Homo sapiens: one gene and its partners. The protein of the gene in region 3 purifies or fractionates together with the protein of the main gene of each other region. This does not show direct contact. Each region holds a gene or a part of one and is shown on either strand. Other genes may lie near its edges.

Region 1 (3,383 bases), on a different chromosome or scaffold from region 3:
CAAGCCCTGGGAGGGAGGACGGAAGGTAGCGGAAGCCTTATTTTCTCCAGGTAGTTACTTCCTTTTACCATTTAATCAAAAGTTTTAGGATTTTTCCTAATACAATGTGCTGGGTTGGGTTTGGTGGGATGTGGCATAGTGAATCTAAAAGAAGCTGCTTTGGATTCTGGCTGAGTTGAACTTAAATCCAGATTTGGCCATTGACTTAGCTGTGCAGCCTTGGCAAGTGACACTTGCTCTGAGCTTCAAGTTCCTTTTCTATATTAGGGGGTATTACGTATCTTGCTGTGTTATTCAGAGGATTATAATTCATGCCTGTGAGTGACTGGCACAAGAGAAGACAGATGACAGATCAGCAACTGGGACCATCTTTGAGCCCAAAGCATAGTAACAGGCGTTGTGGACGATGCAACATAATGACTGACAAAAAGGTATAGAGAGGGAGGTACTCTCTTTAAAAAATTGTGAGAGTCTTATTCTTGGTAAGACTAAAATAGCAGCTAAGTGATCAATGAGAAAGGTGCTTCAAAAAGCATTTTTGTTTAATGCTAAGATCACTTCAGTTTCCAAGGTCATATAAAGAAACATCCAATTTAGAGAAAAAATTCTGTAATAAGTTCAAATACCAAAGCGTAAAGATGATGTAACACAGTGCCTATGCTGCATGGTTACACAAATGAAACGAGAAAGGTAGTGATTGCTTCTAAATTCTCACTGAAAATCCAATTTAAAGGTTTATTGCAGTCTAGGTATTTTTAATTTTTCCCTTGGTGATTATCAAGATGGTTGATGCTAATAAGTACTATTAAAAAACTAAAATGCTGTCGAATATGGAACTTCTTTTAGTTAAGAATTATTAATATAGAAAATGTGAGTTGGTGGACTGGTACTTCTTGTGCTCTGATTTTTATTTATTTATTTTCTTCTTTTTTTTGAGACAGTTTCGCTCTTGTTGCTCAGGCTGGAGCACACAGGCACGATCTCCACTCACTGCAACCTCCGCCTCCCGGGTTCAAACGATTCTGCTGCCTCAGCCTCCTGAGTAGCTGGGATTACAGGCGCCCGCCACCACGCCTGGCTAATTTTTTTTGTAGTTTTAGTAGAGACAAGGTTTCACCATGTTGGCCAGGCTGGTCTCGAACTCCCGATCTCAGGCAATCCGCCTGCCTCAGCCTCCCAAAGTGCCGGGATTACAGGCGTGAGCCACCACGCCCGGCTTTATTTTTTTTTTTTTGAGACAGAGTCTCGCTCTGTCACCCAGACTAGAGTGCAATGGTGTGATCTCAGCTCACTGCAACCTCCGCCTCCTGGGTTTAAGCGATTCTCATGCCTCAGCCTCCTGAGTAGCTGGGATTACAAGTGTGTGCCACCACACTGAGCTAATTTTTGTATTTTCAATAGAGACTGAGTTTCACCATGTCGGCCAGACTGGTCTTGAACTCCTGACCTCTAGTGATCCACTCACCTCAGCCTCCCCAGGTGCTGGGATTAAAGGTGGGAGCCACTGTGCCCAGTCTCCAATTTGCTTTAGAGGCAATAATGAGATGAATTATCAGGCAACTGGGATCTATTCCAAGTCCGAGATTTTCTTCTGCCTGGGCTATGTGACCATGAGCAGGTGTTTAACTTCACAGGGCTCAGGCTCTTAACCGACTGAATGAGGTCACCACCTCCCGTCAGGTAGAATGTGTTAAACATTTTGAACTCTTGAGATTAAGGCTAAATGCTACTGGGATTATATTTACTTATAATTAAGCAACTCTAAGCAGATCAGATGCAAGTTATTAATAAGGAACCAGACAAATGTTGTCTAAGGCAAAATTTGCATACAACGTAATAAATGATTATACCAGTTGTTTACTGTGGAAAGTGGGGTCCCATGAAGGAAAACAGCACATCTCTTAGCCTTCCAGGTTTTCCCCTATCATGGTATAAAAACTTACTTGAGGCCAGGCGCGGTGGCTCATGCCTGTAATCCCAGCACTTTGGAGGCCAAGGTTGGGGGGATCTCTTGAGGCCAGGAGTTCAAGACCAACCTGGGCAACATAGCAAGACCATGTCTCTTTAAAAAAAAATTGGCTGGGCAAGGTGGCTCACGCCTGTAATCCCAGCAATTTGGGAGGCTGAGGCAGGTGGATCACCTGAGGTCAGAAGTTCGAGACTAGCCTGGTCAACATGGTGAAACCCCGTCTCTACTAAATATACAAAAAATTAGCTGGGTGTGGTGGCGGGTGCCTGTAATCCCAGCTACTTGGGAGGCTGAGGCAGGAGAATTGCTTGAACCTGGGAGGTGGATGTTGCAGTGAGCAGAGATCGCGCCATTGCGATACAGCCTGGGCAACAAGAGCAAAACTTCGTCTCAAAAAAAAAAAAAAACTACTTAAATATCATTAAGATAAATTTATGTACTCCTATAAAGACAAATATCCCTTAAGTAAAGCCAGTCTACCATTTGTTTAGGAGAGATGGTTTTTAGATTCCCTTCTTCTAAAAAGTAATTTGACCTCTTCACTTCATCCCAAATCCCTGAGATTTTGAAAGGATAATGCCACCAATTTGGAGCTCTTTCAAAGGATTTATTTGCTACAGAATTGCTTGAGTCCACCAATGAGAAGAACTCAGGATTTCTGTGTTTAAAAGGATTTTGCTTACTGCTTTATTTTTACAAGTGCTGCCATATCCAAAAAGCACTTCTTTTTGCCAGCATTTGGCATGTCTATAAGAGGTTAGAAAAAGTCAGAATCTATAGAATTGATGTCTAAAAATAGGAAAAAAAAAAGAATATTTAAAAATTCCTCATTTGGATAGGTCCTGAGTTGAAAACACATTCATCTGCAAAATAACTTTTTTAGGTCAGAATGCTATATTTTTAACCACAGATGCTGACCTTGACCTTGACTGGTAAATATTTCCAGGCACCATATGGATGACAGGACAGACGCCATTCAGTTGGCCAAATCTGATATATGCCCTACTTGGCTTGTGAAAATTTTTGAGTATCTCTTAACCCCAAACCTCCTGGTTCTCTGAAACTGATTGTCTTAATCTGATTCCCAATACTTTTAAAAACAAATAAACAAAACATTCCCTGAAAGATCACACATATAAGTATTTGTTGCCTGTGAATAGATACAGAGAAACCAAGTACAAATGTGCATTAACAATTCAGTGACGTAGCTGTGGATCTCTGGATGGCTATGTAAGCTGTGAGAAAGTCCCCCACTGGCTTTGCACTTGCTGCGCACCAGAGGTGACCATCCAGGCAGTATCAACCTGAAGAGGGGGTGAATCCCAGCAGCTGCTCGATGGGCTTAAACCGCCACTCGTCAGCCTCCAGCTCTTCTACCAAACCAGCTAGTTTTTCCATCCGAGCAACTTGCTGA
Region 2 (7,334 bases), on a different chromosome or scaffold from region 3:
AGTATTTAGACAAGTTGTATTCTATGGTCCCATAACTACATGGCTTTTCAACATTTAAGGTCATTTCTGGTTAGATGCCAGAACCTCATTTGAAAAGTACATCTAAGGGATCATTGTCATATTGGAATAAAACAATAAAAAACCACACATTACTCTAATTCATCAGAGGTTGAACTGCTTTCAGCTGACCAATCTACAAAAGACATAGGTTTTCAAATGTCTTAAGTAGCTGTGACACCCCCAATCCCACCTAAATATATAACTACAATCAATTTCAATTATTGGTCGAAACCCAAAGAACCGAGGCATGAATAACTCTAGCCATGGAACAGTTATGCTTGCAGATTTAAGGGTACTAGGTTTTAATTAATTATTACATCTAATTAATCTAATTATTAATCTATTACAGTACAGTTTATTACTAAAAAAATGTGGATGAACTGTTAAAGCCTTCATCACAAGGTTAGGTAGCAGCCAGGCTTTAGACAAAAGTACAGATAAGCATAATTAGATTGTCCTTCGATCCACTTTCCTGTACCTGTTTATATATACCATGTTCCTATAGACAGCATTTTTAATGTTAGGAGCCTAAGACTTTTGAGATGATGCAAGCTAGTCTTAAGACCCCATCAAGGAACCACATTAGCATGAGAATGTGGTTTATCTCTCTGTCCTATGACTTCATCCTTCATTCTCTGACCAATCAATACCTTAACCCACTACCCTCTCTTTAAAACCTCTGGACCGGGTGCGGTGGCTCACGCCTATAATCCCAGCACTGTGGGAGGCCAAAGCAGGCGGATCACTAGGTCAGGAGATCGAGACCATCCTGGCTAACATGGTGAAACTCCATCTCTACTAAAAATACAAAAAATTAGCTGGACTTGGTGGCGGGCACCTGTAGTCCCAGCTACTCGGGAGGCTGAGGCAGGAGAATGGCGTGAACCCAGGAGGCGGAGGTTGCAGTGAGCCGAGATCATGCCATTGTACTCCAGCCTGGGCAACAGAGCAAGACTCTGTCTCAAAAAAAAAACCAAAAGCAAAAAAAAAACCTCTAGACCTTAACTCTTTGGGGAGGCTGACTTGAAGTTTCCTCAGTCTCCTAGTTCGGTGGCCCTGCAAGTAAAACACTTTATCTGCTGCAATCCCCGTTGTTTCCGTGTATTGACTTGCTGCTCATAGGGCAAGAATCCTATATGGTTACACAAACAGCCAAAGCCTATGTAGTTCCTTTGCAGCTCCTCCAAAGCCACAAAGTTATTTTGCTGTGAATTAAATGTTATTCTTGGCCAGGCACGATGGCTCACGCCTGCAATCCCAGCACTTTGGGAGGCTGAGGCGCGAGGATCACCTGAGGTCAGGAGTTTGACACAAGCCTGGCCAACATGGTCAAACCCTGTCTCTACTAAAAATACAAAAAAAAAAAAATTACTCAGGCATGGTGTGGGCGCCTGTAATCCCAGCTACTTGGGAGGCTAAGGCAAGAGAATCGCTTCAACCTGGGAGGCAGAGGTTGCAGTGAGCCGAGATCGCGCCATTGTACTCCAGCCTGGGGGACAAGAGCAAAACTCCGTCTCAAAAAAAAAAAAAAGAAAAGTTATTCTGGATATAATTATGTCACAAAACATGACACAAGTTTTGTTCTTCCTCCTGCTAGAAATAAATGAGTACTGGGACACTTGAACTTGGAACACAAGTAAAAAGTGCCTTATAAAACTTACAAGGGGCAGGGCGTGGTGGCTCACGCCTGTAATCCCAGCACTTTGGGTGGCCGAGACGGGTGGATCACGAGGTCAGGAGTTCAAGATCAGCCTGGCCAAGATGGTGAAACCCCATCTCTACTAAAAATACAAAAATTAGCCAGACAGTGATGGCGGGCGCCTGTAATCCCAGCTACTTGGGAGGCTGAAGCAGAGAATTGCTTGAACACGGGAGCCAGAGGTTACAGTGAGCTGAGATGGCGCCACTGCACTCCAGCCTAGGAGACAGAACAAGACTCCTTCTCAAAAAAAAAAAAAAAAAGAAAACCCCACAAAAAAAAAAACCTTAAAAGAAAACAAAATTCAGCTGGTCTTCCTATATTTTATTCAACAGAATAACCAACATCAACGAACTTTTGACTTTATGAAACTTTAGTTCTGCAATTTTATAATGTTATTTTCTTATAACTTTGAGAGAAAATTACAGAATTGTTAAAGAATTATCATTTTGTACCGATTAATGCCACATATTTAATACTTTTTCAGTACCCCAAACTTTTAGAAATGTTTTTACTTGTTAGGTGCAACATAAACAGCTACACGTAAAAATACTATTAAATTTATATGCTATAAATAACAGTATCAGCAATGATTCCTACAAACACTACCCTGCCAAAAAAAAAAAAAAGAGACCCAAATGCACACTAACGGGAGCTTAAGTCTCCACAAGAGCTTCCCCAGCCTTTCTAGAGGACGGTGAAAACAGGCTGAGAGCCCGAGGCTCAGAAAAACAGCTCAGAGGGGCTGGAGGCCAGTCTGAAAGCTGAGGCTGCACATGGGATGCTACGCACAGCTCAGGAAAGAGGTTGGCAAGCAGGAGCCGGAAGGAGCACCCCAGCCCGCAGGCCAGGAGCGCCCGCAGGCCCCCTCAGCCCCGGAGCACGCTCAAGGCCCTCCCTCGGGTTCCCAGTACCCCGGGTTTCCAGACCTACGGCCACCAGGGGAGGCTCGGCCTCGGGACGGGTGCGAGAGTCACGCGGCGCGCGACAGACCACCAAGTGCTGCGGTACGGCGCCCGCACCTGTATAACTCGGGACGCGTCAGGCGCGGCGAGCCCCGGCTGCTCCCCGGAGGCGCAGGGGCCGAGGAGGCCCGAGGGCAGCGGCGGGGTCCTTCACAGTGACTCTTGGGCCGCAGCAGCTTCTCATTCCCTCTCCCTCCCCTATTCTGGAGGAAGAACGGGCAACAGCAGCGGGCTCGAGTGCTAATGGCAGGAAGGCGTGCGAGACGTTCAAATGGACGCGTCCATCTTGACTTTCCCGTCTTGCCTCGCGCCGGGGCGGGGCATCGCGGGAGGTGCGCGGCGTCCTAGCAGTCCTGGCGCCTGCGCTGTTGAGGGAAGACCGCGGCGGGTTACAACTTGGGGGCTATTTCCACCTTCCGTGCGACTGATGCGAACCCCGAAGCCGGACTCTGTCTGCTACAGTCCTGGCGTCCAAGTTCTCTTTAGCTCATGTCACTAGGGACCTGAACTGCCTTATAGATCTCAGGGTTTTTTCTTCTGGTTTCGCTTCCGCCTCCTGACCCCACGTGGAGGTAGGCACCTCAGGCTGAGGGTGGGGAGCAGGGGTTGCTGATTTTCTCTACGTGCAGTGAATGCTCTATGCCTTTTTCGGTCCATACTCTTCGAAGAGTGGATGAACTGTGTGAAGGTCCTCACAGAAACGTTGCTTGCAATTCCCAGATTCAGAGACACTTCTTAAGGCGATTCAAAGACCCAAGTTAAGAACCCCAGCGGCCACTCGCGCCTGTAATCCCAGCACTTTGGGAGGCGAGGCGACAGGATTGCTGGAGCCCAAGAGTTTGAAACCAGCCTGGGCAATATAGCGAGACCCTGTCTCCACAAAAGAAAAATTTTTTTAATTAGCCTGGAGGCGTGGTGCGCACCTGTAGTCCCAGCTGCTTGGGAGTCTGGAGGATCACTTGAGCAGGGAGTTTGAGGCCACAGTGAGCTATGATCGCGCCACTGCACTCCATCCAGCCTGGGCAACAGAGCAAGACCTTGTCTCAAAAAAAAAAAAAAAAAAAGAATGGGTTATAGGAGAAAGGTTAGAAACAAAGATTCATGAAACAGTTAAATACAAATATACCTAATTGATATTTTAAACTTTTGTTTGTGTGTGTGTGTGTGTGTGTGTGTGTGTGTGTGTGTGTTTTTCTTGAGACAGAGTCTCGCTCTTTCGCCCAGGCTGGAGTGCCGTGGCACAATCTCGGCTCACTGCAACCTCCGCCTCCCGAGTTCAAGCAATTCTCCTGCATCAGCCTTCCAAGAAGGTGGGATTACAGGCGCCCGCCACCACGTCCAGCTAACTTTTGTATTTTTAGTAGAGACAGGGTTTCACCACGATGGCCAGGCTGGTCTCGAACTCCTGACCTCGTGATCCTCCCGCCTCGGCCTCCCAAAGTGCTAGGATTACAGGCGTGAGCCACTGCGCCCGGCCAATATTTTAAACTTTTTTAAAAAAAAAAAGTTTAGCAACCCCATCAAAAAGTGGGCGAAGGACGTGAACAGACACTTCTCAAAAGAAGACATTTATGCAGCCAAAAAACACATGAAAAAATGCTCACCATCACTGGCCATCAGAGAAATGCAAATCAAAACCACAGTGAGATACCATCTCACACCAGTTAGAATGGTAATCATTAAAAAGTCAGGAAACAACAGGTGCTGGAGAGGATGTGGAGAAATAGGAACACTTTTACACTGTTGGTGGGACTGTAAACTAGTTCAACCCTTGTGGAAGTCGGTGTGGCAATTCCTCAGGGATCTAGAAATACCATTTGACCCAGCCATCCCATTACTGGGTATATACCCAAAGGACTATAAATCATGCTGCTATAAAGACACATGCACACATATGTTTATTGCGGCACTATTCACAATAGCAAAGACTTGGAACCAACCCAAATGTCCAACAATGATAGACTGGATTAAGAAAATGTGGCACATATACACCATGGAATACTATGCAGCCATAAAAAATGATGAGTTCATGTCCTTTGTAGGGACATGGATGAAATTGGAAATCATCATTCTCAGTAAACTATCGCAAGAACAAAAAACCAAACACCGCATATTCTCACTCATAGGTGGGAATTGAACAATGAGAACACATGGACCCAGGAAGGGGAACATCACACTCTGGGGACTGTTGTGGGGTGGGGGGAGGGGGGAGGGATAGCTTTAGGAGATATACCTAATGCTAAATGATGAGTTAATGGGTGCAGCACACCAGCATGGCACATGTATACATATGTAACTAACCTGCACATTGTGCACATGTACCCTAAAACTTAAAGTATAATAATAAAGTTTAGATTTACAGAAAAACTGCAGATAGTCCAAAAATTTCCCACATACCCTATACCCAGTTTCTACATCCAGTTTCCCTATTATTAGTATTTTACATTAGTATAGTACATTTGTTAAAATTAATGAAATATCAACACATTATTAGTAATTAAAATTCATACTTTATTCAGTTTTTTTTAAGAGAGTCTTGCTGTGTTGCCTAGGCTAGAGTGCATTGGCACAAACACAGCTCACTGCAGCCTTGAACTCCTGTGCTCAAGCAGTCCTCCTGCTTCAACCCCCCAAGCAGATGGGACTCCAGGTGCAAGCCACTGCATTAGTTTGTAGAATATCCCTTAACTGAAATTTGTCTGATGTTTCTTCATGATTAGCCTGGGGATATGGATTTCAGGAAGGAAGATCATAAAGTGTCATTTTCATCACATCATATCAAAGGTACTTATCAACAGTATCACTTATCGCTGCTGATGTCAACCTTGATCACCTAACTGAGATAGTGTTTGTCAGATTTCTCTACTATGATGTTACATTTCCCCACTTTCCATATTGTACTCTTTGGAAGGAAGACAATATGTGCAGCCCTCAGTTACAGAGTGAGGCCAGTTGATTTTGTTGTTGTTTTACAAACTTGCAAAAGCAAATGAAGGAGGGAAGCATCTTTTCAACAGTTAGTGTTGCAATATTTGTATATTCAGATGGAAAAAATGAATCTTGATTCATACTACACACCATATACAAAAATTAAAGTGCATCAAAGACCCAGATATGAGAGTAAAGCTGCCGGGCGCGGTGGCTCACGCCTGTAATCCCAGCACTTTGGGAGACCAAGGCAGGCGGATCACCTGAGGTCAGGAGTTCAAGACCAGCCTGGCCAACATGGTGAAACCCCATCTCTACTAAAAATACAAAAAATAAATAAATAAATAAAATAGCCAGGCGTGGTGGCAGGCGCCTGTAATCCCAGCTACTCAGGAGGCTGAGACAGGAGAATCACTTGAACCTGGGAAGCGGCGGTTGCAATGAGTCGAGATCACGCCATTGCACTCCAGCCTGGGGTACAAGAGCGAGACTTCGTCTCAAAAAAAAAAAAAAAGAGTAAAGCTATACACTTAGAAGAAAACATAGCTGTAAATCTTCATAACCTTGGATTAGGCAATGATGTCTTAAATATGGTACCTAAAGCACAAGGAACCTAGGAAAAAATTTGATAAGTTGGAGAAAAGTTTTAAATTTTGTGCTTCAAAGGTATTGTCAAGAAAGTGAAAAGACAACTCACAGAATGGGGGAAAAGATTTGCAAATAATCTGATAAGAGTCTGTTATCCAGAATATGTGAAGAAGTCTTACAACTCAACATAAAAAGACAACCCAGTCTAAAAATGGGCAGAGGATTTGAACGACATTTTGCCAAAAATATATTATACAAGTGGCCAAAAAGGACGATAAAAGATGACCAACATCATTAGTCATTAGGGAAATGTAAGCCAAAACCACTTCACACCCAGTAGGATAGCTGTAATCAAAAAGACAGACAATAACAAGTGTTTATGAAGATTTGGAGTTATTTGACCCCTTGTACATAATTGATAGGAATGTAAAATGGTGCAGCCGCTTGGTAAAACAGTTTGACAGGTTCTCAAAAAGTTAAACGTTGGTCTCTTCCAGGAGCTACCGCCAGAAGATGGCAGCAGCCGCCAAGTTGTCACTACTAGAGAAGTCCCTGGGACTGAGTAAGGGGAATAATAAATAAAGTGCTCAGGATGAGTGACAGATTCTGGTTCTTCAAACAAACAATGGTCCAAGTCTAACAGGATTGACTACTATAGCAGCTCATCTAGTCAAGCAAGCTAACAAAGGATATTTGCTAGGGAGTACTGCAGAAGAAAAAGCAATAGTTCAGCAATGGTTACAATACAGAGTCACTCCAGTAAAAATGATAGCCACACACTGGTTTTTTTTTTTAGTTTTTTTTTTTTTTGAGATGGAGTCTCACTCTGTCACCCAGGCTGGAGTGCAGTGGCGCTATCTCTGCTCACTGCAAGCTCTGCCTCCTGGGTTCATGCCATTCTCCTGCCTCAGCCTCCCGAATAGCTGGGACTACAGGCGCCCGCCAACAACGCCCGGCTAATTTTTTTGTATTTTTTTTATTAGAGACAGGGTTTCACCATGTTAGCCAGGATGGTCTCGATCTCCTGACCTTGTGATACGCCCACCTCAGCCTCCCAAAGTGCTGGGATTACAGGCGTGAGCCACCATGCCCAG
Region 3 (7,296 bases):
TCCACCCTACTACCCACTCTTGCCCACCGCTTTGGGGACACCCTCCCTCTTTGAAAACCCAACATCACAGCCAATCTGCACCTCAGTAGGGGGACTCTGAAACACTGAGGAAAGGACAGGTGACACATGGGAACAGGATGGGGGGACCCACATGGCTGGGCCCAGCTCCCCTATGGCTCCGGGAGCCCAGAGCAGAGCCCCAGACCACACCCCAACAGCACAGGTGCCTGGAGGCCCCATGTGAGGGTGTCTCGCTCCCCGCTGTGGTGCAGGCTGGCTGTAGGTCAGTCCATTAGGGACCGGCCAAGCGAGTCCACACTCAAGTAGGGCAGCAAACAGGAGAAGGGGATCCATTCAGTGGCTCCTCTGGTGGGCCCAGCTTCGCCACACCTGCCTGAGGTAGCCCCCTCGGGATCCTGGCCCGATACCGCCTGCAGCCATGGGATTCTGCGCAGATCCGAAGAGCGCACCTCAGATGCGTCCTCGCTATCACCAGGGCCCAGAAGTACTGGTCTCTACCCCACATCAAGACAGCTCCAGCCACCACCCGGTCTGGGCCCACCCAGGCCTCCGTGCTCTGGATGCTTCTGAAGCCAGGTGTCAGGTTTGCCAGAAACCTACTCCCCTGTCTCCAGCGGGGCACAGCCCAAGGGAGGGGTCCTCACCTTGTGGAACTCACGCAGGAAGGAGCGCTCGTACTCGCCCCGGCAACGGTCCTCCATCCTCTCCCGGGTCACCTGGTGCAGGGTGGTGGTCACAGCCTCGGCACTGACCCGCTCCAGCAGACTGAGCCTGTGTCTAGAGGAGAGCCCTGGCCATGGGGCACCCAGAGCACACACCGGCCCCTCTAGCCCAGAACAGCCCCATGCCAGGACTGCCCTGCCTGTAGAGTGCATGCAGCACACACACACACACACACCCAGCACACACCTCCCCACAATCCTCAGCTGTGGGGGGCGGTTGTACCAAAGGCTTCAAGAAGCCACTGGGAGCACAGAGCACTCCCAGGCTCTGCTGTCCCCGCCCAGCTGGCCTCTATCCAGGTAGGGACACTGGCCTTCCCCATGTGATCAGTGGCAGCAGGTGTGGCTGTCGGGGGCCCTAGCCTTATCTCCTAGGATCAACTCTGAAACGACAACCAACTGCACTGCTACCCTGGCCGCAGAGGTACAGATGCCACTGTTTGTGCCTTTCAGTGCAGTCTCTGGTCTACAGTGACAAAAGGACTCAAGAGGAGGATGAGAAAAGTTGCCGTGTAACTTTTGCAGGGATGAGCCCAACAGAAGCCCTTCACGGTCTCCCTGACCCCTGCCAGCAAAAGGAGCACTCCTTTAGTCCACCTTTAGTCCACCTAAGACCTCTCAAGTAGCTGCATGGCTACACCCCCGTTCAATGTGACAAAACCACCACAAATGGCCAAGGGTATGACAATTGCTAGAGAACTACAACAGGACCTGTCTCTCACAACAAACCCCTCTCCTCTCCAAACTAACAAGAGACTGCTTGCCCTCACAGTGACCTGATCTTCCTGGAGAGAAGCAGCAGCAAGCTTCTGTTCACAATTACAGGGCAAGGAATGTCGACGAGGGTGAGAATCATTCCTCCCCAGGATCGACAAAAGGCACAGTGGAATTCTGCAGAGTCCAGGAAGTTTGGAGTTGCTAAGAAATTTGCTGCTGCAGACACAAGCCACATAGGGCCTTACCAGGGTCAAGGCATGAATCTGTGGGACTGAAGGTGAGTGACAGAAGAGAGACACCTGTGTCCAGGACACGCTGCACAGGAATCCCTGGGACTCTCTCTCTGTCATGTTCCTGGTTATCAGGACGGCTCACCAGCTTTCTGCTGAGGCCAGCTGGACCCAGGGGAGCAGCGGGGAACCAGAAGGAGCAAGGGCATGGCCATCGGGACAGACTACTCACAAGACCTGGCTGAGCTGATGGAACTGCTCCAGAGCCTGGCGACACCAGCACTGTTGCTTGTCACTGCTGCACCCTGCACACAGCGGGCTCTGCAGGAGCCGGTAGTACCGGCGACGGGCATACCGGCTGTCCAGCTCCCCTTCCAGTTCCGGGTCTGTGCCCCCTTCCCCCTTCCTCTTACTCTGCATATAGACTCTCAAGAAGCACCCATACAGACGCTGGATCATCTCTTGGAAGGTTCTGGGGGTGCTAAAGAACAAGACTCCGCGCAACATAGTGTGGACTTCTTCTCGCAGCCCCTGAGCACCAGTGCCCATCAGCAAGCCCAGGCGAGTCCATTTCTCCAGCAGCTCTAGGCTACGCAGGTAGGGATCCAGGCGGCTCTCCAGCAGGCCAAAAGCGTCAAGGAGTAGCAAAAGGCACTGGGGCTCATCCGCAGAGTTCTCGCATTGGGAGATGGCATTCCAGAACTCAGGGGAGATGTTGGCCTGCAGATCGTTCTGCAGCACCTCCACGAACCACTCCTCCAGGACCGAGTGTAGCCCGTGGCCCCTCAGAACCTCCACCGCCGCCCGGAGCTCCTCTTCCTTTGGCGGGACTGCACCGCTGGTCCGGGAAGACACCTGGGGTGCAGAAAACCGTGAGGCGAGGGGAACACAACATAGAGGTGGGGAGAGGCGGGGAAGGGAAGAAGCTGAGGGGGAGGCTGCAAAAACTCCGCTGCCCCCTGTCCGTGCTGCCCGGACGTTGGGCCGAAGCTATGGAAGGGCTGTCAGCGGAGCTGAACGAAACGAAACGGAAAGGTGGTGGAAAATGGCAGGACAGGACAGAGGCGGATGATGGACAGAGCCGTATGAACCCGAGGGTAGCGGCCCCAAAGCGCGTACGGTCCCGGAAACTCCGCGCGGGGCCGCCCCTCTCTTCCCAGGCCTCACCAGCCCCAGCGCAGCCGGCGGCACCAGGCCGGTGCTCACGGTGTTCCAGGCCACTAACAACTCCTGTCCGGGCCGGGAGTCGCTGTCCCCCTCCGCCACCACAACTGCCGCCGCCATCTGCACCCACCGACTCCGAGATTCGCTCGGCGCGGCGCGCGGCGATGACGCACGTCTGCACGCGCAGCCATGACGCGCACAAGGCGCTCAGCGATGACGCGCTAGTTCGGCGCGCCGTGGGGGAGTCGTGCGCAGGCGCGGACAGCGCTGCTTCCGCGGCGGTTGGGGTGGTGGGGCCCCGGGCGGCGTTGACCATGACCCAGCAGGGCGCGGCGCTGCAGAACTACAACAACGAGCTGGTCAAGTGTGAGCGGCGCAGCCGGGACGGGGAGGTCGGGAGGGCCGCAGGGCCGGGTTCCCGGCTCGCAGCGGGGTGCCCCTGGACCCGCCTCGCTGCGGGCATCGCGCGGCTGAGCAGAGCCCTCCGTGCCGGAGGCCGGGTGTCCGTGGCCCGAGCCCTCGCTGGCTCGCAGGCCCCGCGCCGGGCGCTCGGGGGTGGTGCCTGACTCTGGCTTCCTCGGGTGGAAGGAGGCCCGCCCTCCGCCGCCGCGCTCCTGCCCTGGGCCCACAGCGCCGCCCCTCCCGGCCCCCAGGCATAGAGGAGCTGTGCCAGAAGCGGGAGGAGCTGTGCCGGCAGATCCAGGAGGAGGAGGACGAGAAGCAGCGGCTGCAGAATGAGGTGAGGCAGCTGACAGAGAAGCTGGCCCGCGTCAACGAGAACCTGGCACGCAAGATTGCCTCTCGCAACGAGTTCGACCGGACCATCGCGGAGACGGAGGCCGCCTACCTCAAGGTGGAGCTCGGGAGGCCAGGCCGAGCATCAGGGGATAGGCACGGCAGGGGTGTTGCCACGGCAAGGCGTCAGGACCGGCTGGGGCTCCCGGCTGTGGGCAGTCTGTGCCTCGCTGGCATTTCGGGCAGGGGCAGCGTGGCCAGGCCCATTGAGGAACCCAGGCTGCTGTGGGAGTGACTGTGGGGCTGTCTGTGGGGCCTGGGGCATCCTGGGTCCTGGTCTTTATCCGGTTCTCGCTAGCCATGTGGTTATTTCTGCTCAGTGTGAAGAGCCAGGTCTTGGGCAGAGCACCCAGCACGGGCCAGTGCTAACCCAGCCTGGCTTTGAGGGTGGAGAGGAAGTGTTTTGGGTCAGATTCCGGAGGGAAGAGGGCCCTGCCACCCCGTCTGCCAGTCCCCTTGGGCTTCCGCCTTCCCCCACACAGGATCCCTTGGCTACAGCACCCCCAGCCAGGTCCCAGCACCTGAGTGTGAGGACAGCTGGGGCTTAGGACCTTACCAACAGGTGAACATTAACAACCTTCTCACTTCTCTGGCCCCAGATCCTGGAGAGCTCCCAGACTTTGCTCAGCGTTCTCAAGAGGGAAGCTGGGAACCTGACCAAGGCTACAGCCCCAGACCAGAAAAGTAGCGGCGGCAGGGACAGCTGACCAGACCACGGGCAGGGCCTGCCTCCGTGTGCCCCTCAGCTCAGCCCCAGCAAGTGTGTGCTCAGAGCATCTTTGTTCTTCACGGCAGCAGCTACCTTCCCTCACTGTCTCAGGTGCCGAGAGGGGCAGGTGCCAGCCTCCACTGGCATCAGTGACAAGCCCAGGGCACAGCCCACCCGGGGGTCCTCGCTTCATGCTCACACAGGCTATGGGGATGGTGGGCTCCAGGTCAGCTCTGCAAGGGGCTTGTCTCTGTGGCACCCACACTCCTGCCCTGCCAGGGAGGCTCTGGTTGTCTGAGCACCATGGGGGCCCCCTCACCTTGTCCCTCCTCAGCCAGCAGAGGCCCAGGGCAAGGGACAGGAGGACAGGGGTTCTCCTTCACCACAGAACCCAAACCTCAGGTCTCACCCCTGTGGCCTGTGATTATGAATAAAGATTATCTTTGTAAAGATCCGTGCCAGCCTGCTGCTTGCCCGTATCAACAGCATGGGGCTGCCAGACACCTGCAGAGCCAGAGCCTGAGGCTCCCCCTTGGGAGAGGAGGGAGGAGGGTCTGGAGTGGCCTCCCTGTGACTGCCCCACTAGCCTCAGGGACACCGCTGAGGGTGCCCACCCTCCCCAGGCCAGCCCCACCCTGAGCCCTCCCCAGCAGGGCCGCCGGTCCTCTTCCCCTGACTGGCCCACGGCTCACCCTCCTCTCAGGAGCTCTGCTTGCTCGTCCTGTTCTCTGCCACACCCTGGTGGCCAGCATAGGACCCAGCCCAGAGAGACAGCTGGGGATGCCAAGCATATCCAGCAGCTGCCTCAGATTCAGGTCCCTCTCAGCAAGGACTGGGGGGAGTTCACACCCCCCACCCCCGTCGGTTCCTCAGTTGCAAGTTTTGCTTGGCCTGATGACACCACTGCTGCCACCAGGCCCTGCTGCCCACCTTTCCCTGGCCGCACACCAAGCACTGGCCACTTCCATCCTTCCATGTGCCCTGGGGCCTCTGTTTTGTCCCTGCAGCAACCAAGCATGGCCCGAGGACTGGGCCGATTTGGGAGGCATGTGTTGATCCAGAGGGTCCAGAAAAGAGCTGGGCCTAACCCGACCAGGGAAATACACCAAACTCTCCTTCCGCCGGAGTTTGGCCAGACAGCATCTCTTTATCTCTTTGCTCTTAGGTTTGATCCTCCAGGGAGGAAATGGTGCTTGGGTTCCATGGGCTGTAAACAGCCCCAGCTCTGGCCGTCTGAGGCAGGCGCTGCTCCCGGCCTGCCTCATCCTGTGGGTCGGGGGGCACGCCAAGCCCAGCAGAAGACACCGTCCCCTGTGCTGCCCTCATGCTGCCCTTCCCTTGGTCCCTCCCCAGGCTCTGGGCCCCTCAGAGAAGCCACTTCAGGCCCAACAGCTGCAACACTCTCACCCTCCCACCTGAAGTCTAGGCCCCTGACAGCAGGCCTGTCATCCTACCTCCCACAGTGCCAGCTCTGGGAGGCTGGGGTGGAGGGGCAACAGGTTAACAGGCCATGGAAGTTGGGAGGTCAGAGCCTTGGCCACTGGGACATCAAGGAGTGGGGGTACCAGATCGGGGTCACCTCCCACACACCCTGGCATAGACGTGCAAACTGGGGCCCACTGGACCCCATGTGGCCTCTTCCTGCAGAGACCTCCCCCTGCTCCCTTCTCAGCCAAGGACCACGCAGTGGGGACACCAGCAGCCTTGTCCAGTGCTGTTTATTGAGTCCATCATCAGAGGCAGGAAAGACGCCACTCATCACAGAGGGCATGTGGGCTGCGGGCAGGGGCTTAGGGTCCTGCAGAGGACAAGTAGCTGGGACAGCCCTTCACCCCGACACCCCATGGCCACTGTGAGGCAGGCTGAGGAGACAGGACAGGGAATGGCCAGGTGCAGAATCTGCACAGCCCCCTGCCGGGTCGCAGATGGCCACCACCCAGCAGGCCCCTGGCACTCACCCACAGGCAGTTCCCCACCCCACTTCCCCCTTGGACCCTCCCAAATCAGGGCCGGGGAGTGAGACCCAGACCTGGCCCCGATGGCAGGAGGCACCCTAGCTGCTTCCAGGGCCAGGAGGGGTGGGTGGGATACAGTGAGGCCAAACAAGGCAGAAGCGGGTGCAGTAGTCCCTGGCTACTGCCCAGCTTCCGGGACTCCCACAGCTGGGCTCAGCCTTGGTCCTGGCAGTGCTGGGCTCAGAAATACAGGGCTGGCTCGCTGCGGAAGTCCGAGAGGTCATTCTGACTGGCGGGTGTGAGCTGAAAGTGAGAGGACAGAATGTGGACACATGGGCTCGCCCGGGTGTCAGACTCCCCCCAGCGCTCCACTCCCCCGCATCTCACCATGGCCTCCACGGGCGGGGGCTCTGCCTCCCTCGGGGCCTGCTCCAGCGCCTGCTCCTGCCACTTGCTGAAGGCCACAGAGTGCTTCGGGGTGTAGCTGGACAGGCCTGTGAATGGAGGTGCACATGCAGACGTGGACACAGACCAGGCTCCACCCCTCCCAGGCTGCCTGTCCCCCAGGTGGGCACTCACCTGAGCTACCCTCTGGCAGCCGAGAGCTCTCGGGTCTCACGCTGCTCACAAACGTGGCCCGGGGCAGGAAGAGTGCAAAGGGCTTCTCCTCTGAGCCGGATCCCTCTTCCTCCTCTTCCTCTTCCTCCTCCTCCTCCTCCTCCTCCTCCTGCTGGTCCACCTCTTCCTCCTGCTCTAGGGAGCTCTCGGAAGGGTACTCAAATGTGGTCTGCAGGCTTTTGTCGTTGAAGGAGATCTTCATCTGGGAGTGAGAGTCACGTGAACGAGGGCTGAGGGCCCACATGGGCACAGTGATGCCAGGGGCTCAGGTTCAGCCCTCAGGATGAGGCTGACCCAAGTGGGGCGCCAGACACACCATCAACCGTTCCGGGGGCTCCAGGAGGGGGCACAGAGCTCTCCAGCTG
Region 4 (6,964 bases), on a different chromosome or scaffold from region 3:
TAAAAAAAAAAAAAAACAGAGTTCAAGAACCCACCCAGAGATCGAAATTCACTCGATGGATTTGGGTTTGGGTTTGGGACCCAGAACTCTGCATTTTAAACAAACACTCCAAGTGAGTCTGATGCAGATAACTAGGACCTACACATTGGGAAACAACTCTTGAGGGCAAGGACAAAATCCATTTCATTTTTGTAATCCTTGAGTTTAATGCATCATAGTCATTCCATAAAAGCTTGAACTGAATATGCTTTAATTTGCATGAATGCTCAAAAAATTGAACCCAGTGAGAGATGACAAACGGCGCAAACCTTAGACTAGGAATCTGTCTTCATCATACTTACATTAATGCACATAACTCATGCAGCAAACAAAAACTGATATAGACTTTATTGGTCTGGTGGTCCATGTGGAAAAATATAACAGTATTTTCAATTCTTGGCTACTAGATATTACTAAACAAACAGAAAACTCAATTTCCCTGCTTCAGAATGCTTAACATTAAAAGATGTTTTGGCTGGGCATGGTGGCTCACGCCTGTAATCCCAACACTTTGGGAGACTGAGGTGAGCAGATCGCTTGAGGTCAGGAGTTCGAGACCAGCCTGGTCAACATGATGAAACCCTGTCTCTACTAAACATACAAAAATTAGCCAGGCATAGTGACATGCACCTGTAGTCCCAGCTACTCTACTTAGGAGGCTGATGCAGGAGAATCCTTTGAACCTGGGAGGCAGAGATTGCAGTGAGCCCAGATCGCACCACTGCACTCCAGCCTGGGCAACAGAGCGAGACTCTGTCTCAAAAACAAACAAACAAGAAAACAAAAATAAAAGATGTTTTAAAAAGTAGCTAAATTCTGAAATACTTACAGGAGACATGTAATAAGGTGTGCCAACAAATGTTTTTGCAAAACTCGTGTCATGGTTTAATATTCTAGCTAGCCCAAAGTCTCCAAGCTTGACGTTTTGCTTGCCATCCAGGAAAACATTGGCTGGTTTCAGATCCCGATGCAATACGGTATGACCACCATCACTTCGTCTGTGGCATTCCTTCAGGGCCAGAGTCAACTGAGTCATCACTCGAAGAACAAACTCTTCATCTAAGTATTGCCTAAAACCAAAGCAGTTATACAGCATATAACTTCTAAAAAAATCATTGCCAAGATGGGATGATATAAATTATCCAGTGTACAAATAGGGAATTTATTTATTTATTTATTTATATTTTTTGAGACAGGGTCTTACTCTGTCACCCAGGCTGGAATGCAGTGGCACGATCATGGCTCACTGCAGCCTCGACCTCCCAGGCTCAAGCAATCCTCTTGCCTTAGCCTCCCAAGTAGCTTGGACTACAGGCACATGTCACTATACCTGGCTAATTTTTGTAGAAACAGGGTCCCACTATGTTGCCCAGGCTGGTCTTGAAATCCTGGGCTCAAGTGATCCTCCCGCATCGGCCTCCCAAAGTGTTGGGATTACAGGTGTGAGCCACCACACTCAGCCTATAAATTGTTATTTTGATATAAAATATGGGTGTTGATTCACCAGGAATTTTCTAAAGTACTGTGGACCTACCAAACAAATACAAATACACTCTTCCATATTACTGATCCTAAAACAAGATGCTTAAAATAAATGAAACTAGACCAATTTCAGCTTACATTTTTAAAAGATTATGCTTACCTTTCCTTGGTTCCCTTTGTAATTACACTAGCCAGATCCCCTCCTTCACAATATTCCATTACAATGTACAGTGTTGTATTGGTCCGGTCAATAATCCGATCATAGTAACGAACGATGTTTGGATGTTTCAGTTCACGAAGCAAATTCACTTCAGAAACAAGCATCTGTTTCTCAGCTTCTGTCATGGAGCCATAGTCAAGTTCTTTCCAAACTAATATCTGAAATAAGAATTTCCAAGGTATGAATGAACTCATTATGCTCAAAAACAAAGAATGAAAGTTCCAAGATTTAACAAATTACCTCCCTTTTAATTATATCCTACAATCAAGGTCATTATCTAATTTAGTTCAATGAACTTAAGGAGCTGTGAGTTTACTTCCATAATCTTCCTCCAGTTCTAAGCAGTAAATGTATGTTGTGGGGAGACAAACGGGAATGAGGCACATGAGGACTCCCCCAACCCCTACCCTCAGTTGGTTAGTGGGAAGTTGGCTAAAAGGTACTATAGTCAAAATTGGGGTGAAGGTGGTCAAAGTCCCTGCCCCATTCCACCCCAGTCGTGTTTTCCCAGGATGAGACACCTTGGTAAAGATCCCTCCATCAGCAGCCAGGCAGTTTCCTGTCCAATGTTACTTTCTGTAAAAGTTCTACCTATATACATTGGGAAATATGAATCCAATAATCCTAATAATGGATATTTTGAGGGAGTCTGACTGCAGATACAAAGCTTCGGGTTCTGGTAGTCCTGCCCCTTTCTTGTGCCTGAGAGGGCCACTCTTAGAGCTCTAAAAACAGCTCAGGAATTAGTTACCTGTCACCAATGGAAGGTCCTTAGCAAGCCAAAGCAGGAGAAAGAGAGAAATGGGGAGAGAAACGGGAAAAGATGGAAATACATATATCAAAAGAAGCGGTCTCCCATCCTTTAAGCCACCCAGGACAGGCTGTCAGATGCAGACCCAGGAAAGACGGTTTAGTCTTCCGGGCACCCATTTCCTCAGCCCTGTCGGTTCCCTTCGGTGGCGCAGGGCGCTCGCCCCGAGGCGACGAAACCTAAGCAGGGGCAGGCGCAGGGTAGGTCCCACGCTCACCTTGCCATCACTCTTCCTCCGGATCTTCTGGCAGCGGCCGTAGGAGCCTGTGCCAATGGTGTACAACACTTCATAGTCCTCAGCCCGGGAAGGCATGGCCGGCCAGTCGCCAGAGTCGCGCTGCCTCACGCAGGTTGCGCCGCCAAGTGCGGAGCTCCAGGGACCAGGAACTCCAGGGACCTGGATGGAGAAGCCCCCGAGCAGCACTGACCCGCCACCCCTGCCTTGGGCCCCGTTTAACCGTCGCGGGCCCTGATCTCGCAGTCTATTGGCAGGCGGTGGGCCGCTTCGCCTCTCTCATTGGCTAAGAAGAACACAACAATACCCTAGGCATTTTGGGAAAAGTGTCACTAGGCAACCGCGTCGGCGTCTGCTTTTAACCTGTGGGAGAACCCGGCGAGCTAAGCCAAACGGAGGGCGGGAGAGAGGAAGCGGCAGCTGGCGCCTCTCGGCAACTCTAACCCTCTGATAGAGATCGCCAAGGTAACCGAGATCTAAGGTCCTCCCCTCAGGCTTCTTTGCACACCGCTTCCACCAGATGCCTTCTGACCTTTGCACTCTGGCCCCTCACACTACCTACTCTCCCCGGCACACGCATTCCTCGCTCAGGTTCCAGTACCCTGAACCTGGGTGGGGTCACGTTGAGGATATGCTGAGAGCTGAATACAAATTAGAAATACAGACTCCCGGGTGGGCGCGGTGACTCACGCTCGCCCGTAACCCTAGCACTTTGGGAAGCCGAGGTGGGTGGGTCGCTTGAGCCCAGGAGTTCAGACCAGCCTGGGCAACAGGGCAAACCTCGTCTCTACTGAAAATACGAAAATTAGGCCGGGCGCTGTGGCTCACGCCTATAATCCTAGCACTTTGGGAGGCCGAGGCGGGCGGATTGCTCGAGGCCAAGAGTTCAAGACCAGCCTGGCCAACATGGCGAAACCCCGTCTCTACTAAAAATGAAAAAAAAAAAAAAAAAAGTAACAGAGCATGGGGTTGCAGGCCTGTAATCCCAGCTTCTTGGGAGGCTGAGGCATGAGGAATTGCTTGAACCTGGGAGGCAGAGGTTACAGTGAGCCGTGCGCCACTGCACTCCAGCCTGGGCGACAGAGTGACACCCAGTCTCCAAAAAAAAAAAAAAAAGGAGAAATACTGTCGCTCTCCTACCAAGTACTTTACACGTCTTGTCCCGTTTATGTGTGCCAAATACACAATTAACCCTATCGACAATACTTCATTGAACACAGATTCTCTTTTACGCACCCACACACCAACGTTCTCAGCTTACCCAGCCAAATGAACAGCCCCATGTTTACCAGGGAAGGAGGACTTAGAGGCCTCCATCCAGGGCTTGTTAGAGGAATATGTAAATTACCAGAAAGCTAATAATTTGGAAATGCATGAACAGGCCAGTTTTCTTTAAATATCTGTTCAGCAAAGGATTAAAAGACACCTGATTTTCTATTAATAAGAATTTAAAAGCTCTTTATGTAAAAATAAGGGACTTATTACATGCCCTGAATATAACATAAGATAATTGGAATTGCCAACCAGGAGAATTTTTAAATTAACATTCAAGGGCACTGTCTTACCTCAGGGGAATAGGACCAATTTAGGTTTCAAAAGTTATGTAAGGCACTGCAAGTGGCTGTGTTAATTAGCATCATTTTTTTATTTTTGTGCCTCTTACAGATTGGTATCCATAGAGCTTGCTGTGGTTTGAATGTATCCCCCAAAGTTCATGTGTTGGAAACTATTCTTAATGCAAAAGTGTTAAGAGGTGAGACCTTTAAATTGATTGGGTTATGAGGGCTACCCCTCACGAATGGATTAACGTAATCACAGGAGTGGGTTATCTTGAGAGTCGGTTGGTTATAAAAATGAGTTTGGCTTTCCCTTGCTGTTTCTCTTACCATGTGATGCCTTCTGCTATTTTATGACCCAGAGAAAAGGCTGCTGCCAGATGCTACCCCTTGATCTTGGACTTCCTAGCTTCCAGAACCGTGAGCCAAATAAACTATTGTTTATAAATTGTCCAGTCTGTGGCATCCTATTATAGCAACATGAAACTGTATAAGACAGAGCCCTGGCCGGGCACGGTGGCTCACACCTGTAATCCCAGCACGTTGGGAGGTCAAGGCGGGTGGATTACGAGGTCAGGAGTTCAAGATCAGCCCGGCCAACATGGTGAACCCCGTCTCTACTAAAAATACAAAAATTAGACACAATGGCAGGCACCTGTAATCCCAGCTACTCGGGAGGCTGAGGCAGAAGAATCGCTTGAACCCAGGTGGCAGAGGTTGCAGTGAGTGGAGATCACACCACTGCACTCCAGCCTAGGCGACAGAGTGAGACTCCGTCTCAAGAAAAAAAAAAAAAAAAAAATGAGCCGTTTGGTTATCCTGCCCCAAATCCAGTCCTGCACCTTCTCTCTGGCCACTTCTGCTTTTGCTCTAAACGCACACTTTCTCAGTTCCTCACCACCACCACCATCTTTGCACCTGTGATTGCATTTGTCCAGAATACTGTCCAACCCACTCCCTTATCCACTCCAGTCATGTCTGCCCAGAGGACATAACGTGTCCTTCAAGATTCAATTCCAACTTTTTCTCCTGTAATCTGAGAAGCCTCTCTGGCGTACTTGGACAGTCAATCCTCCATCTACAGTGTTCATAGACCACTTTATACATAAATCAAAACTTATCATTATTTGTTTACATGGCTCTCACAGTAGCTGAACTCCGAACTGCTTATAGCCAGCATAAGTCCTGTAATAGAGAAGGCATGCAATAAAGCTTCGTTAAATAAAAATCTGCGAAAGCCCCTTATTAATAATTATGCAAGGATTTTGAGTGGGCCCTCAAGTACTCAATTGCCAAATGCCCCAGCTCTAGGCAGAGACGAAATATCTGGAAAGGAGCCATCCCAAGAGTATGGAATGTGGCTCCTACGCACATATGCTCATTTAACAAGTATTTATTGAGCACTTGCTATGGCCCAGGTATGATAGGTATTGACATGCTGGCTTTTCATTTAAAAAAAGACAGTGGAGCCCCAAAGACAATAATAAAGAGTAGCACAGGAGGCTGGGTGTGGTGTCTCATGCCTGTAATCCCAGCCTTTTGGGAGGCCGAGGCAGGCGGATCACCTGAGGTCAGGAGTTCAAGACCAGCGTGGCCAATAAGGTGAAACCCCGCCTCTACTAAAAATACAAAAATTAGCTGGGTGTGGCCAGTATGGTGAAACCCTGCCTTTACTAAAAATACAAAAATAGCTGGGTGTGGTGGCACGTCTGTAGTCCCAGCTACTTGGGTGGCTGAGGCAGGAGAATCGCTTGAACTTGGGAGGCAGAGGTTGCAGTGAGCCAAGATTGCACTACCACACTCCAGCCTGCTCAACAGACCGAGACCCTGTCTCAAAAAAAAAAAAAAAAAAAAAAAAAAAAAAAAAGTCCGGGCACGGTGGCTCAAGCCTGTAATCCCAGCACTTTGGGAGGCCAAGGTGGGCGGATCATGAGGTCAGGAGATCGAGACCATCCTGGCTAACATGGTGAAACCCAGCCTCTACTAAAAATACAAAAAAATTAGCTGGGTGTGGTGGCAGGCGCCTGCAGTCCCAGTTACTGGGGAGGCTGAGGCAGGAGAATGGCGTGAACCCGGGAGGCGGAGCTTGCAGTGAGCCGAGATCGCGCCACTGCACTCCAGCCTGGGCGACAGAGCAAGACTCCGTCTCAAAAAAAAGAAAAAAAAAAAGGGTAGCATAGGAATCACTCACATGACAAACCCTAAAGGTTGGCCAGAGTTAGCCCGCATCATGAGTGAGGGCAGGACAGCCCAGCAGAGACCACTAGACACCAGAATAGAAAGAGACACTGGGAGATGAGAAGCATGTGGGAGTCAAACAGGGACAGGTTACAGGGAACATCCTTTCCCCTATAACTTCTTTCCTTTTTCCTTCATATTCCATCCATTCTTTAAGTCTCAGCTCATGCCCAATTTCTTCTCTGAAATTTTTCCTGATTGACTTCAACCCACTATGATCTATCTTCTAATTACTCTTAAGAGTAATCAACTGTGTTTTTACTCATTTAGAATTATACTAGGCCATATTACTAGCTTCTCATGTGCATGTATCTTCTCTGCCTTATTAAATGGAAAATTCATCCTCCAACAAGTATAAATAGAGGCTGAGTCAGGTGCCAGAT

Evidence for each region.
Region 1: the proteins of ANAPC2 (region 3) and ANAPC16 purify together in Homo sapiens (co-immunoprecipitation; 5 studies listed by BioGRID and IntAct, with this or other methods). This does not show direct contact.
Region 2: the proteins of ANAPC2 (region 3) and ANAPC1 fractionate together in Homo sapiens (co-fractionation; 8 studies listed by BioGRID and IntAct, with this or other methods). This does not show direct contact.
Region 4: the proteins of ANAPC2 (region 3) and NEK2 purify together in Homo sapiens (affinity purification with mass spectrometry; 4 studies listed by BioGRID and IntAct, with this or other methods). This does not show direct contact.

Annotation. Positions count from the first base shown.
Region 1 is NC_000010.11:72,233,002-72,236,384, reverse strand, and holds the end of ANAPC16 (anaphase-promoting complex subunit 16), read right to left. Parts: coding exon 3,269-3,383; 3' UTR 525-3,268; downstream 1-524. UniProt on the Homo sapiens protein: Component of the anaphase promoting complex/cyclosome (APC/C), a cell cycle-regulated E3 ubiquitin ligase that controls progression through mitosis and the G1 phase of the cell cycle.
Region 2 is NC_000002.12:111,881,161-111,888,494, forward strand, and holds the start of ANAPC1 (anaphase-promoting complex subunit 1), read right to left. Parts: upstream 3,034-7,334; 5' UTR 2,782-3,033; intron 1-2,781. UniProt on the Homo sapiens protein: Component of the anaphase promoting complex/cyclosome (APC/C), a cell cycle-regulated E3 ubiquitin ligase that controls progression through mitosis and the G1 phase of the cell cycle.
Region 3 is NC_000009.12:137,185,559-137,192,854, forward strand, and holds the start of ANAPC2 (anaphase-promoting complex subunit 2), read right to left. Parts: upstream 3,003-7,296; 5' UTR 2,975-3,002; coding exon 2,858-2,974; intron 2,546-2,857; coding exon 1,923-2,545; intron 799-1,922; coding exon 666-798; intron 1-665. Other genes in the region: microtubule nucleation factor SSNA1, read left to right, coding at 3,169-3,220, 3,508-3,707, 4,249-4,356; TPRN (taperin), read right to left, coding at 6,554-6,616, 6,701-6,807, 6,893-7,133. UniProt on the Homo sapiens protein: Together with the RING-H2 protein ANAPC11, constitutes the catalytic component of the anaphase promoting complex/cyclosome (APC/C), a cell cycle-regulated E3 ubiquitin ligase that controls progression through mitosis and the G1 phase of the cell cycle.
Region 4 is NC_000001.11:211,672,615-211,679,578, forward strand, and holds the start of NEK2 (serine/threonine-protein kinase Nek2), read right to left. Parts: upstream 3,008-6,964; 5' UTR 2,866-3,007; coding exon 2,770-2,865; intron 1,900-2,769; coding exon 1,682-1,899; intron 1,110-1,681; coding exon 869-1,109; intron 1-868. UniProt on the Homo sapiens protein: Protein kinase which is involved in the control of centrosome separation and bipolar spindle formation in mitotic cells and chromatin condensation in meiotic cells.